2 separate regions of the Homo sapiens genome follow, and region 1 is reported to be linked to region 2. Evidence: microRNA targets listed by miRTarBase, many of them from high-throughput screens and not tested one by one. Region 2 holds a microRNA gene; the other region holds the end of a gene's coding sequence.
The links. The annotated mature microRNA hsa-miR-4330 reads CCUCAGAUCAGAGCCUUGC and lies in region 2 at 4,888-4,906, opposite strand. An mRNA with a match to its seed (bases 2 to 7 or 8) in the 3' UTR can be bound and repressed. Matches are read on the target gene's strand: a 7mer-m8 pairs with bases 2 to 8, a 7mer-A1 pairs with bases 2 to 7 and ends in A, and an 8mer does both.

Region 1: the mRNA of KRTAP6-1 is a reported target of hsa-miR-4330. Seed matches in the 3' UTR shown: 7mer-A1 at 1,337-1,343.

What each region holds. Positions count from the first base shown.
Region 1 is chr21:30,607,120-30,614,955 of GRCh38, reverse strand. It overlaps KRTAP6-1 (keratin associated protein 6-1), which reads left to right and starts at 1,026. Exons shown (of 1, transcript NM_181602.2): 1 at 1,026-1,525. The coding sequence starts at 1,052. The coding sequence ends at 1,267.
Region 2 is chrX:151,165,368-151,173,203 of GRCh38, reverse strand. MIR4330 (microRNA 4330) reads right to left here and starts at 4,982; the gene lies at 4,878-4,982.

The sequences.
Region 1 (7,836 bases), not on the chromosome of region 2:
TACAGATATTTTACTCTTATTTACTATATTCAACTCACTCTTATAAAGTCATCTTACTAAGAATATAAGTCCAGAGGGCTACTTGACTTAATCATTCAATTTAGCTCTGATCTTCACTGCTTTGAAAAAAGATTAGGCTATAGTAACATGTTCCTCATAGTCTCATATTTTGCCAAAGACTTCTTGTTTGATGGTGGAAATATAGTAGGTTGCATGAAAAGATACTTCTGCCAGTATTATTGTTTTAAATATGAAAATACCTATACTTACTTTTGAGCCAGAACACAAATATAACAAATGCCTTGAAATTTCAGGAAAATTTTTATAAAAATACAATTTTATAAATAAAATGAAACCTCATTGATTACGAATTTGAAACTATGGGAAAGAACTATTGTTTTAAAACAGTCACAAAAGGAAATATTGATGTGAGAAAGAAAAGTATAGTTTTCTCATGCCTGGTATTTTAGAATTTCAAACTATTGGCTTTGTGTCAACAGTCTCTGGAAGCTGAGTGACACTTTCTGGCTTTTAAAAGAAAACCATCTCTCATGTGAAAATGAGAAGAATTCCTAAAGGAAAACAATGGGTTTGGAGCAGCAGGAAAGAGATGGAGAAACTCAAGCTCAAGGGAGATTACCATGACCTGTTGAATGTCAGCAAAAATAAGGTAAAATTATTGGTTGTTTAGAACAGGTCAGTTTGTTTACTAAAATGCTATTTCTTGCCATAAAGGCTGGTTGGAAAATGGTAATTTGAATGTCTGGTGTGAGTAGAGTTTTAAAGATCAGACAGTTGATGCTCATTAAAGATGCACAAATGTTTCAGATGTGGCTGAACAATAGAAAATGTTCTAAATGCCACAAGGCCACGATTGAAAACCAAGAGTCAACAAATTACTCATGCTGGTCCTTCAAATTAGCCAATGGCATGACTTGTGTATGGTTCCCACCCACACTGAGGCATATAAAAGGCCCTCTGCAGGGGAAGTGTTCATACTGAAGTCACCTACACTTCCTCCTACCCAAGGACAACCTCCACAACCAACACCATGTGTGGCAGCTACTACGGAAACTACTATGGCACCCCTGGCTATGGGTTCTGTGGCTATGGAGGCCTGGGCTATGGCTATGGAGGCCTGGGCTGTGGCTATGGCTCCTGCTGTGGCTGTGGCTTCCGCAGACTGGGCTGTGGCTATGGCTATGGCTCCCGCTCCCTCTGTGGCTATGGCTATGGATGCGGCTCTGGCTCTGGCTACTATTATTGAGGATGCCATGGGAGACTCTCACCCTCTATCCTGTGATACTGAGATTCACTAATTCTGAAGCCCACATGTTCTGAGATTTTCCCTTGAGTGATGATATCCTGCAATGGAAGTCTAATATGGTCTGTTGTTGAGCTACCATCTAACCTACAAATATCTTGAATTTCCATCATGAAACGGGATAAGGTAAAATTCACCTGTCAGTTCTCCTTTCATCAGAATGATGGTGTCACATCATCTGCCTTGATGACTTTTATGATGGAGCTTTTTTCTCTGTTCACCTAATAAACACATTTAATCCAGAAGAGAAACCTGGTGTTTATGTCAATCATTTAATATTTAAAATTTCTTACCAATAGTTTTTGTTTCAGTTTGCATGAAAGCTAACAATTAAATTCTTTGGGAGATATTTTTCTTACAATTTCTAGAGAGGTTTCTTTGCCAATTCAAAGCTCAATTGTTTTAGAAAAGTAAGCTTTTTAATAAATTTCAGTTTCCTCCTTTGCTTCTAGGGGAAGAATTTATGTTGTGCTGAGTAATTCTCAATACTAAATTAAGTACCTATCATTTATATGTTGGGTTATGCATTGCCTGCTGTCTGTCACATAACAAAGAAAAAATTTAATTTTCCGAAGCCTTCTTGTGCATATCTCCTAAAATAAATGAATGCTTGTTACTATATCCTTCATTTTGAATCTTCCATTTTAAAGAAACTATTTTTTAATGAGACATAACCAAAGGAATAGTTTTATAATCTAGTATACTCTAAGCTAGTAATAGGTTATAAAGCTATTTGACCTGCATAGTGGGCCATAATAATTAAATAAAAACACTATTTCAGGTATAAACCGAGAAGCTTCAAAGTCTCACAAGGCTGCAATTCAAGATCTTAAATGGGGCTGATTGTACCCAGGGCTTATCTGGGGAAGGATCCATTTCCAAGGTCATGCCTTTGTTAGCAGAATTCAGTTCCTTGCAGTTGTAGGACTAAAGGGCTCATTTTCATTTTCTTGTTGGCCATTTGTTGCAGTGCCTTGCTAGCTATCTTTTGGAGGCAACCCTCACCTCCAAAAGGATGCTCACAGTTCCTTGTCAAAGGGGTTTTGAAACATAATTGCTTGTTTTTCAAAACCAGCAAGGGAGGGCAAGAGACTCCAGCAAGATGGGTACTACAGTCTTATGTAACATAATCACATAAGCACACATAATCATAAACATACACCATATTCTATTGGCTAAAAGCAACAGGTCTCACCCTCACTCACAGAGAGGGGCTTACACAAGAGTACGGACATGTGGAGGCAGCAATCACTGGGCATGTTGATTCTTCTCACTGCAAATTCAGTGCATACAGTAGTTTTCCCTTAACCATAATTTCAGTTTCTGTAGTTTCAGTTACCCAAGATCAGCCACTGTGAGAAAATATTAAACTATTTTCAGAGAGAGAGAGAGAGATGGGTGGGGAGAGAGAAAGACTGTATTTACATAACTTGTTTTTACAGTAATTGTTATACGTTCCTTCTATTATTAGATATTGTTGTTAATCTCTTACTGTGACTATTTTGTAAATTAAACTTTATCACAGGTATGTATGTATACAGAAAAAACATACTACATATAGGCTTTGTTACTATCTTGGTTTCAAGTATTCACTGGGCATCTTGGAACTTATCCTTTGGGATAAGTGGGGATGACTATACACCCTTCATAATAGGAATTAGGAAGTTGTCCTTCATTTTAAGTGCTCTTTGACAATTTGTACAATATTGGGATTGCTTTGTCTTTAAATATTTGGTAGAAGTCTCCTGAGAAATCATCTGGGTTTGGGCTTTTCTGTTGTTAATTTTTATTTTTCTTCTTTATTTAAAAACTGTCCCTTAAAGTCCTTTTTTAAAAAACTTTGGCCGGGTGCTGTGGCTCATGCCTGTAATCCCAGCACTTTGGGAGGCCTAGGCGCTCAGATCATGAGGTCAGGAGATTGAGATAATCCTGGCCAAGATGGTGAAACCCTGTCTCTACAAAAAATACAAAAATTAGCTGGATGTGGTGGTGCGTGCCTGTAATCCCAGCTACTCGGGAGGCTGAGGCAGGAGAATCGCTTGAACATGGAAGTTGGAGCTTGCAGTGAGCCGAGATTGCGTCACTGCACTCCAGCCTGGGGAGAGAGTGAGACTCAGTCTCAAAAAAAAAAAACCAAAACAAACAAACAAACAAAAAAACAGAAACAAACAAACAAACAAAAACACTTTTATTTTAGGTTCGGGGTACACATGCAGGTTTGCTACTTAGGTAATTTGTGTCACAGTGTCATAGGGGTTTGTTGTACAGATTATTTCATCACCCAGGTAATAAGCTAGTACCCATTAGTTGTTTTTCCTGCTTCTCTCTCTCCTTCCACCTTCCACCCTCCGCTAGTCCCCATTGTGTGCCCTCTATGTGTCCATGTGTTCTCATCGTTTAGCTCTCACTTATAAGTGAGAACATGCCGTGTTTGGTTTTCTGTTCCTGAGTTAGTTTGCTGAGGATAATGGCCTCCACCTCTATTCGTGTCCCTGCAAAGGGCATGATCTCCTTCATTTTTATGGCTGCATAGTATTCCATGGTATATGTGTACCACATTTTCTTTATCTAGTCTATCATTGATGGACATTCATGTTGATTCCAAGTCTTTGCTATTGTGCATAGTGCTGTAATGAACATATCCATGCATGTGTCTTTATAATAGAATGATTTATAGTCATTTGAGTATATACCCAGTAATGGGATTGTTGGGTCAAATAGTAGTTCTGTATTTAGGTCTTCTAGGAATCATCAAAGTCTTCCACAATGACTGAACTAATTTACATTCCCACCAAGTGTATAAAAGCATTCTTTTTTCTCCACAACCTCGCCAGCATCTTTTATTTTTTGACTTCTTAATAATAGCCATTCTGACTGGTGTGAGATGGTATCTCATTGTGGTTTTGATTTGCATTTCTCTAATGAACAGTAATGTTGAACTTTTTTTCATATGATTGTAGGCCGCATATATGTCTTTTTTGAGGAGGGTCTGTTAATTCTTTTCATTAACTTTAAGGAAATGAATCTGTTTATGATTTCTAAGTTGAAAGGTGTCCATTTTGGTCATCTGCACTTCTCCAGGACATTATCAATTTACGTACATAGAGCTCTGAAACCCAGTCTTATATGGTATTTCAAATGTCTTCTGTTTCAATGTTTATTTCCCTCTTACTATTAATTGCGCATATGGTTTCTCGATTTTTTTCTTTGATCAAGTTAGCAGGTAGTTTACAAGTTTTGTTAATCTTTCAAATAATAGCATTTCATGTGATTACATGTATTTTTTCTTTTTGTACCTCATTAATATCTCCTTCTCTATTTATTATTTTAATCTGTGTGTATTTTTCATTTACTTAATTGTCCCTTGGGAAATATTTGAGCTAAAACATAATTCATATTACATAATTAATGAAATATAATTAATATTTCATAATATTAATTTATTTTCTTCTATTTTTACTGATAACATGTCAGTGCTATGAATTGTTCCTAACCACTTTAAAAATATTTCTCATAGGCCCTGTTACAGATTATTTAAACTATCATTAATTATTGAAAACTGGTAATTATATTTGTATGTCTTCTTTCAACAAAGAACATTTTTTTAAATACAAGGCTTGTTACTTTCCAGGTTAAAGGATTTTTCTGTTCTTTGTTCTTGTTAGTAGTTATTAATATTGTTGTGTGACATCAGAGAGTACCTTTCCCATTATTTCTGTTTTATAAAACGAATCTTTTCTGCCGGACATTATGTATGACCTTTGTGTGGATGTTCCATGAGAACTGGAGAAAAAAGGTATATTATTTATTATCAGGGCATAAAGGTCATTATTATCAAGGCATAAAGGTCAGTCTATATAAATGAGAGCTACCTTTTGAATATATTGTTTAGATCTTATCTCTGCTTGTTTATTTTTTCCACTTGATCTGTCTTGTTCCAAGAGTGCTGCTTATTAGTGTGTTTCTACTTATGTCTCTCAGTGGCATGTATCTGGTATCTGTGTCTTCATAAAGGGGGTCTTAGCATTATTTGGTGCATAAATATACATATATATATATAATAGATATCTTGTGATTTGCGTGTCTCTTGCTTGGTAAGTTTTCTTCTTTATCACTTTTAATGCCTTTTCCCTCATTTCTATCTATCTGACAGTGGAGTTGTTATGTTTTCTATTGGGATTTTTTTCCCAGACACCTTTGTGCATGGCTTTAATTTTGCATTTTGAAATCATTTTGTTTCAGGTGTTTATATAAAACATATAGTTAGGCTTAGTTCAACAGCCAAATTTAAAATGTTTATTTTAATTAATTAAATTCACATGTATTGCCATGACTGGTATGTTTGGTCCTATTCTTTATGCTTTAATGAATACCCACAAAAATAAAAAAAATTTTTAAATGGTATTTTGATGGTTGGTAGTTATATTAGTGGCTATCTGGTTACCTTTGTATATATACTAATTTTAATGTTCTCTGTTCCCTCTTTTTAAATTTAACATTTTATTATCTGACACAATAGCTTATATTAATATTATTTAACTTCCTCTCGTCTATAAAACAACAATTAGCTTGTTCTCTTTTCCTCTTCCATTCTTCTTCTATTATCCCTTTGTCATTTAGTTGGATTATAACTACTTTTCCATCACAAAATATATTATTTATGTATTATTAATCCTCCCATCTAATCCCTATATTTGGTAGCACACCAAATTCATATCATCACACACATACATACACACATACATTCATACCAAAACACATATGTTTGTATCCCCACACACTCACAGATGCACACATACACACATATATATTCAATACTTTGCTTAACACTTCCCATTCATCCCTTGATTAGATGATGCTCACCCTCTAGGGTGTTACTCTATATGGGCTTGTGGATGCAAAAATGTCTACTTTTTGTATGTAGGAAGCTGTTGTTCTACTCCATTGATATATGGAGGGCAGCTTTGTTAAATATAAAGAACTTGGATAACGCTTTCTTTTATTAGGTTCTTTAAAATGCTTTTCTTTTTGTCTTTCTTTGAATGTCACTTTTGAAAATTCCGATGAATAGCCTAATTATTTTCCTATTGTAAATTATGTAATGGTTTTCCTGAGAGCTTTCAGTGTTTGTTTATCATTGAAATCTAATATTTTAATAGTGTTTATATTATAATTGGTAATTCTAGATTAATATTCACTGTCCCTATTTAGGACATGTCAATAAGTAATTCAAGTGAAAGAAGAAAACAAAACAAAACAAAATTAACACCCCAAATATCATAGCTAAACCATGACCAGTAAAGACAAAGGAAAAGATCTTGAAAGCAGCAAGAAAGGCCAGGTGTGGTGGCTAACACCTGTAATCCCAGCACTTTGGGAAGTGGAGGTGGGAGAATCACTTGAGGCCTCGAGTTTGAGACCAGCCTGTATAAGATAGTGAGACCCTGTCTCTAGTAAAATTACAAAAATTAGCCAAGTGTGGTGGTGCAAGTCTGTAGCCTCAGCTACTCAGGAGGTTGGGGCAGGAGAATTTCTTGAACCTGGGAGGCAGAGGTTGCAGTGAGAAGAGATCATGCCACTGAATTCCAGCCTGGGTGACAGAATGAAACCTGTCTCAAAAAACAAACAAACAAACAAACAACCCAAAGCCACATGAGTTTTGAGTTTTACTTTTAAGTCCTTAATCCATCTTGAGTTAATTTTTGCATAAGGTGCAAGGAAGGGGTCCAGTTTCAATTTTCTGCATATGGTTCTAGTTCTCCCAGCACTGTTTTTTAAATAGGGAATCATTTTCCCATTGCTTGCTTTTGCCAGGTTTGCTGAAAGTCAGTTGGTTTTAGGTGTGTGGTCTTATTTCTGAGTTCTGCGTTCTGTCCCATTGATCTTTGTGTCTGTTCTTGTACAAGTACTATGCTGTTTTGATTACTATAGTTTTGTAGTACAGTTTGAAGTTGGGTAGCATGATGCCTCCATCTTTGTTCTTTTTGTTTAGGATTATCTTGGTTATTTGAGCTCTTTTATTGTTTCATATACATTTTAAAATATTTTTTTCTAATTGTGTGAAGAATGTCAACAGTAGTTTCACGGAAATAGCATTGAATCTATAAATTACTTTGGGCAGTATGGCCATTTTCACATTATTGATTCTTCTTATCCATGAGCATCGAATGTTTTTTCATTAGTTTGCATCCTCTCTGATTTCTTTGAGCAGTGGTTTGTAGTTCTCCTTGAAGAAGTCCTTCACTTCCCTTGTTAGCTGCATTCCTAGATATTTTATTCTCTTTGTAGCAATTGTGAATGGGAGTTCATTCATGATATGACTGTCTGCTTGTCTGTTGTTGATATATAGAAATGCTAATGAATTTTGCACGTTGATTTTGTATCCTGAGACTTTGCCAAAGTTGCTTATCAGCTTAAGAAGCTTTTGGGCTAAAACGATGAGGTTTTCTAAACAAGGCATCATTCTTCAGTATGCCAATTGCATTTTTCAGCTCCAGAATTTATGCTTGACA
Region 2 (7,836 bases):
TGTTTTTGTTTTTGTTTTTTTGAGATGGAGTCTTGCTCTGTCGCCCAGGCTGGAGTGCAGTGGCGCGATCTCGGCTCACTGCAAGCTCTGCCTCCTGGGTTCACGCCATTCTCCTGCCTCAGCCTCCCGAGTAGCTCTGGGACTACAGGCACCTGCCAACACGCCCAGCTAATTTTTTGTATTTTTAGTAGAGGCGGGGTTTCACAATGTTAGCCAGGATGGTCTCGATCTCCTGATCTTGTGATCCGCCCGTCTCCGCCCCTCAAAGTGCTGGGATTACAGGTGTGAGCCACCGCGTCCGGCCAAGACGGTGTTTTGCTCTGGGTCTTAATAGTGTGGACTTTGTGTTCTCTTTTTTGTTGCTGTTGTTCTGGTTTTTGTTTGTTTGCCTGTTTTTATTGAGATGTAATTCATATACCTCATATACCATAATATTCACCCTTTAAAGTGTAGAATTCAGTAGTTTTTTGTATATACACAAAGTTGTGCAATCATCATCACTATCTAATTTCAGAACATTTTCAACACCCCAAAAAGAACCCTCATACCAATTAGTAGTCACTCCAGACTCCCCGCCACCTTCCAGCTCCTAGAAACCATAAATCTGCTTTCACTTTCTATGGACTTGCCTATTCTGGACATTTCACCAAAACAGAATCTCACAATATGTGGCCTTTGCATCTGGCTTTTTTCCCTTAGCATAATGTTTTCAGGTTCATCAATGTAGTAGCATAGGTCAACACTTCATTCCTTTTTATGGCTGAATAATATTCCATTGTATAGATACACCACATTTCATTTACTCATTCATTGGTGGATGCTTGAGTTCTTTCCACTTTTGACTATTGTGAATAATGCTGCTATGAACATTTTGGGCTCTCTTTTAGCCCCAAGCAACCCTGGTCCAAGTTAGACAGGCAGAGGGCCTCTTAGTGCCAGCTCACACCTCCCGTCTCCCCCAGGTGGAGCTGGACAGCCAGCCAAGGCCTGTTCCAAGCACTCCAACTTTCTCTGGCCAATGCTTCTCTCAATTTATTAGATCATTTGTTAAAGCTACATGGGACCATTGGTTGATACTCTAATGTATAAGACTAGCAAAATGAGAATTTGATGCAAACCCAATAAGAATGAAAATGTCTTTCAGCTTGAATACAAGCAGAACATTCTCAATTTGTTTCCACATGTTTGGAGACAACTACCTCTTCATAGGAAGTTACATAGGAGCCTCTTGGCTGCTTCACCCATCCAGGCCCTGCCCCTCCTGCTCCTCCCATCCCAGCAGCTTAATGAAGTGGGACTACATTTGACTCAATTCTTGAAAGTAAAAACAAGCCCAGAACCCAGCTTTACTACTAGTCAGATATGTGACCTTGGGCAAGTTACTTAGCGTCTCTGTGTCTCAGCCACCTCACTATAAAATGCAGATAATCACAGTGCCTCATCATAGGGTTGATAGGAAAGTTAAATGAGATAATGCATATAAGCACTGAGAACACTACCCAGAACAGAAAAAGCATTCAAAAACCACTGGCTATTATCATGATTATTATCCTGAAAGTTTCTAATACTCTGTCTAGACTCTACTCTGTTGCACTTCCATTGAGAACAGGGGCTCTCTGCGATATCAGGAGACTCTGCACCTAGCACACCCAGGCTCCAATTCCTGGCAGAAGCCAACCAATGGGCACACACTAGCATCCCAGGCCCCTGTGAGTGTGTCAGATGGAAAGGGACATACAGAGTGACTTGCCTTTTCACTGCCCCCCACAACCCCCGAGATGCTTCACTGACACAGTTTGTATCTTTTTCCACAAGAAAGAACAATCAAATTCCTTTACATCGTTTCAGTATGAAAGTAGGAAGTATGGTTGGCCTAGAAATAGGTGAGATCCCAAGTGCATAGGTGGCTGGGAGAGCTCAGGCAGGAGAAACTGGGTTTCAACGGAGCGTGGGGCCAGTCCAGGCTAAGGGAGCTCTGGTTCCAGGTCGAAAGTGGGGCCAAGACTCCAATGGTAAGGTTGAATCTTCAAAGGAACTGAGTAGGGATTTAGGCAGGAATGAAGTCATTGGAACCGAGAACAAGCCAAGTCACAACATTAGCCAACTCAAGAGCAGTTTGGGACAGGTACTGATTTTTTTCCTAATCAGACTGCGTCTGGTCACATTTACTTTACCAACTTGGAGACACCGTTCACATTTGTGAAATGAACAGAGAGAATGATTGTCCTCTCCAAATCCCCCAGGCTTAATTCATCATGGTTAGAACCACTTTATCTTCTCCTTGTGCTTGAGTCATTAGAGAGAGCAGGACACATGCATTTCCTTTAGTGCAATCAGGGGCTCACCAAAATAATTAGCAGCCAGTATTTCCAGGATCTTAGTGTCTGATAAAGACTACAGGTTAGGTGGTTCAAATCAAAGGGTGACCAGGGAGAGAAGACGCACATTAATTACTTGTAGTAACACTTGGACTCCCTTCCCCTTGTACAATTTATCTGCTAATTAGAGCTTAATGAACAATATCCATTTTCTTAGCTTCTCATTCTAGCCAAGCATGATCACCCGTGCATTTAACGACTGTCCCTTTTATTAATCATCCTCATGACTTCTCATGCAAAAAGCCCTCCTCCACTTGCTCTGTGAGTTCTGCTTCAGCCACCCCACTGCAGGACATAGGCCATGGGTACCCATTAAGCCCCAAACCAGTCCTCTTTCTGCGAACCCTGCAGGTCCACTCAGCTCCTAATAATAGCTAACACATATGAATGTGTGCTTCCTAGATGCCAGACTGTTCTGAGTGCTTTGCTCATATATTCTCATTTAATCCTCACAATAGGCCTATGAAATAGGCACTATTACTATGCCTGCTTTACAGATGAAGAAAGTGAGGCCCAGAGAGGTTAAGTCACTTGCCCCAGGTCACACAGGTAATAAGTGGTAGAGCCAGAAGTCTAACTTGGGCAGTCTGGCTCCAGAATCTGTGCTTTAACCACTGTGCCTCATGGCTTATTTGCAGGCCACACCTGGTTCCTGGCTCTAGAGCACTGGGTCTCAAATTTAGTGCATGACAGAGCAGCCAGGAGTATTAAGAAATTGCAGCTTTCTAGGCCTTCCCCTAGAGAGTGTGACTTGGCAGGTCTGTACGGGGCCCTGGAATCTGCATGTTTCCCAAGTGTCTCAGGTGATTCTAATGCAAGCAGCCCAGGAATCCCTTCTAGAGAAATCCTGCTGTTAACTCAGCCCTGCCCCTAGCCCTTGGCAATTTAAGGATGTCTAGGTCTGTCATCCAGTGACTCCTGCTGAGTTTGCTCTTGAGGGTTTATATACTAGTCCCTGCTGGGACTTTATAAACTTGTTCTAGTGTATAAGATCTTGCTTTGACCCTCAGACTAAACCCTACCCTCTATCACAGTTCTGGTGATGGGGTTCCCAGCCCAATGCCTGATAATAACCTGACCAGCTCCCTGAAAACAGGGCAACCAGAGGCCTGACTATGGCCACCTTCCTGCTGCCAAACTCATCCTGATGGCTTGCCTGAGTAGGGTTGCCTATTTATCAAAAATACAGGATGCTCAGTTAAATTTGAATCCCAAGTACATTCTTAGTATAAGTATATTCCATGCAATATTCGGACATACTTATACTCAAAATTGTCCACTGTTTATCAGAAATTTAAATTTAGCCAGGGGCCGTGTATTTTATCTGGCAGCTCTATGGCTGCGGACCACCTGTAGCTGACCCTAAATGAGCCAAATATGAGGACTTGGCATTGGTTGGTAATGGGATTTTCTTTCTCCCCTTCCCCCGAGCAAGGGGCTCAGTCAACCCTGGGGAGCAGGAACTATTGATTCAGGATTGGAGGGGCCCAGTTCTGGCTGTCAACTTGCCATCTGCCTCTGGCGGATACTGATTTGATATATTTCCTACTCGCTTTAGCCAGCCTCCTCTGTTTGCTCAGGAGATTCATAACCCATTCTTAGAAACATGCCTGTCTCCTGTTTGCCTGAGTAGTACGCTACTGTAGAATCGCCCCTGTACGTAGCAGTTTGCAAATTGACCCCTGGCATTTGAGGAATGTACATACTGTTTTGAATTGGGCTTATATTTGAAACGACTGTGTGTTTTGTATCCATGCCATCTTGTAGGTATGGTGAGTCTCTCTCCGAACCTCAATTGCAGCTGCCCTGGAAGACTTAGCTTTTGGGGGTCCTTCCCAGGACTCCCCCAAATCAATTTTGTATATTCCATGTAACATATCTTCTGAGTCTGACCATTATAAAGCTACCTCCAAATGCAGACAACATCTATCTAGCCATTTTCACATGATGTTATAACACACGAGCAGTCAGAAAAAAAAAGTATACTTTTATTGAAATAGCTTTGTCACCTAAGCCAGAGGGTTGGGACTCCCTTATTACATCTGTATCCATTCTAGTCAGAGGGAGGCCCATGAGTGAAAGGTGGGGAATTGTGTGTACAGGAACCACCTCCTCAAGCTAAGTATTACTGGAATGGAGAGGAAAGTGTGTGGAGGGCCCAGGGGGGAGATGTGTCTGTCTGGAATATTAAAGAAGCAAAAGGACAAACTGCAATAAAACACGCTAGCAGGACCATTCATTTGGCTGTAGAGTCACCAAAGGAAATCACTGGAACTTTCTGTAAGTGGATGCAAATGAGGAAACAATCCCACACTAGCCTGGGTCGAAAAGACTCCAAGACTTCACCTATTTTTTTCATTGCTGAGGCCAGCGCCAATTTGTAAGACTTAAAGCCCCAGGGAATTAGATTGAACAGATATTGTAATTCCAGTGACACAGGGCCCACAATGAGCCCCCATTTGGAACAAACACCAAAAACACTTCCTGAGTCTCCCCTCTGGCCTGACCTGCAAGGCTCTGATCTGAGGAGCAGCTGATGAAGTAGGCGTCAAAAAGAAGCCCCCTTCCTCTCCTGCATCCTCAGATAATTGCCTGCTGACAATTAGCTAGTAGTTCTGGTGCTTCTATCCTCTCTGAAACAGATAGTTCATAGTTAAGTTCCACTTTCTAGTCAAAATTGCCTTACGTCGCCAGTATGCTTCTCACTGTCTGCTTTCTGTTCTCACTGTGTGATGAAGACATACCCGAGACTGGGAGGATAAAGAGGTTTAATTGGACTTACAGTTCCACATGGCTGGGGAGGCCTCAGAATCATGGTGGGTGGTGAAATCCACTTCTCACATGATGACAGCAAGAGAAAAATGGGAAGAGAAAAATGAGGAAGATGTAAAGGCGGAAACCCCTGATAAAACCATCAGATCTCGTGAGACTTATTCACTACCATGAGAACAGTATGGGGGAAATCGCCCCCATGATTCCAATTATCTCCCACCAGGTCCCTCCCACAACACATGGGAATTATGGGAGTACAATTCAAGATGAGATTTGGGTGGGGACACAGAGTCAAACCATATCACTGTGACACATTACATTTTCTAAAATGAAAAAACAAACAAAAAAATAAAAAAACACATTCTTATGACTTTCCTTCCACTTGGAGATGTCCTTTGGCTTTCACAGAAAACTCAAGTAGTTTGATTGGAAAGGATTTTGAGGTGATCACCAAACCCTTTCCTTCACTCCTTCCTTGCTGTCACATTCTACTGCATTGGAGAAGGAAGGCTTCTGGATCTCCAGAGAGGCAGAATTCAGCTGCCCTCCATGTGTGAGGGGTAGTAATGACCTTAGCTTCTTTCTTTCTTTCTTTCTCTTTCTTTCTCTCTTTCTTTTTCTTTCTTTCTTTCTTTTTCTTTCTTTCTTCTTTCTTTTTCTTTTTTTTTTTTAGATGGAGTCTCTCTCTGTCGCCCAGGCTGGAGGGCAGTGGCGACATCTTGGTTCACTGCAACCTCCACCTCCCGGGTTCAAGTGATTCTCCTGCCTCAGCCTCCAGAGCAGCTGGGATTACAGGCGTGTGCCACCACACCCAGTTAATTTTTGTTTTTTTAGTAGAGACGGTGTTTCACCATGTTGGTTAGGCTGGTCTCGAACTCCTGACCTCGAGATCTGCCCACCTCAGCCTCCCCAAGTGCTGGGATTACAGGCTTGAGCCACCGCGCCTGGCCAGCTGCTCTTTTTCAATAGCATCTGTGTGTTACACACAGTGCCTCATGTCATTTATTCCTCACAGAAACCCAGTAAGATCATTGGCATTGTTATGAGGGAACAGAGGCTCTGAGAGAAGAAGCCATCTTTCCTATCAGGCACGTCTTCTCTTTCCTCAAACTTCCTCCCTCTCGTGTCCACTCCCAGTGAGGATAGACCCAGGAGCTGGGCTTGTGGTCAGCATGATAGGGGGATGGTTTACTCTGGGATGTAACTGACTAGCTGAATGCTTTCCCTGGGCTTAAGCTGGCAGAGAAAGCCCCAGGATCTCAGGTCTTATCCAGGTCCCGGAAGGTAGTCTTAGCTCCACCCAGTTTTCTTTGCACCAGCTGCCCTGGTGTGAAACGCTGAGGTCCTGGTAGTGCTGCTGTGCCTCAAAAGCTGAGCCAAAAGGCTGGCTGGGCACGCATGCCTTCCTCTACTGCAAGCACTGCTCCACCAACTCCCACGTGGAGACGGGTGAGGGAACTTGGAACATACCCTTAAGCATCCCTTTGACCTTGCCTTTGAGTAGGAGTCAGTTGGTCAAATATCTGGGAATATTTGGGCTGTTTTTCTTGTTGCCAAGACAACCAAGCCTCTCTTTTCAGGCTGGCTACCAACAGCTATTCTTGGGCTGCTTTGGGTAGTGCTTTTTGTTACTGCTCTTAAGATATTCTTTCCTACCTTCAGGTCATGAAGATACTCTCCTATACTATCTTGTAAAAGCTTTCTAGTTTTTTCTTTCACATTAGGTCTCTAGTCTATCTGGGCTTGATTTTTTTATGTACTGTGTGAAGTAGGACTCTAATTTTTATACATGTATTTGTGTCTTCTTAAGCAATATTTTGTAGTTTTTAGGATACAAGTCTTTCACTTCCTTGATTAATTTTATTTCTATGGGTTTTTTGTTTCTTTGTTTTGTTTTGTTTTTTGAGACAGAGTCTCACTCTGTCGCCCAGGCTGGAGCGCAGTGGCATTATCTCGGCTCACTGCAACCTCTGCCTCCTGGGTTCAAGTGATTCTTCCACCTCGGCCTCCCAAGTAGCTGGGACTACAGGCACGCACCACCACACCCAGCTAATTTTTGTATTTTTAGTAGAGACAGGGTTTCACCAAATTGACCAGGCTCGTCTCGAACTCCTGACCTCAGGTGATCCACCCGCCTCAGCCTCCCAAATTGCTGGTGTTACAGGCATGAGCCACCATGCCTGGCCAATTTTATTCTTTTTGATGCCATTGTAAATGCAATTGTTTTCTTAATTTCCTTTTTGGATTGTTCATTGTTAGTGTATAAAAACTAAATTGAAATTTATGTGTTGATTTTATATCCTGCAACCTTGCTGAATTTGTTTACTACTTTAACTTTTTGTTGTGTAACCTTTAAGGGTTTTCTACACATAAGATCATGTTGTCTGTAAGCATAGATAATTTTACTTCTTTTTTTAATTTGGATGCCTTTTATTTCTTTTTCTTGCCAAATTGCTTCAGCTAGTACTTTCAGTACTATGTTGAACAGAAGCAGTTAGAGTTGGCATCCTTGCCTCATTCTTGATCTTACAGGAAAAACTTTCAGTCTTTCACATTGAGTATGTTATTAGCTGTGGGATTTTTACTTATGGCTTTTATTATGTTGAGGTATTTTCCTTCTGTTTTATTCATAGTTTTTTTTTTATCATGGCATTGTTGTGAATTTTGTCAAATGTTTCTTTCCGCA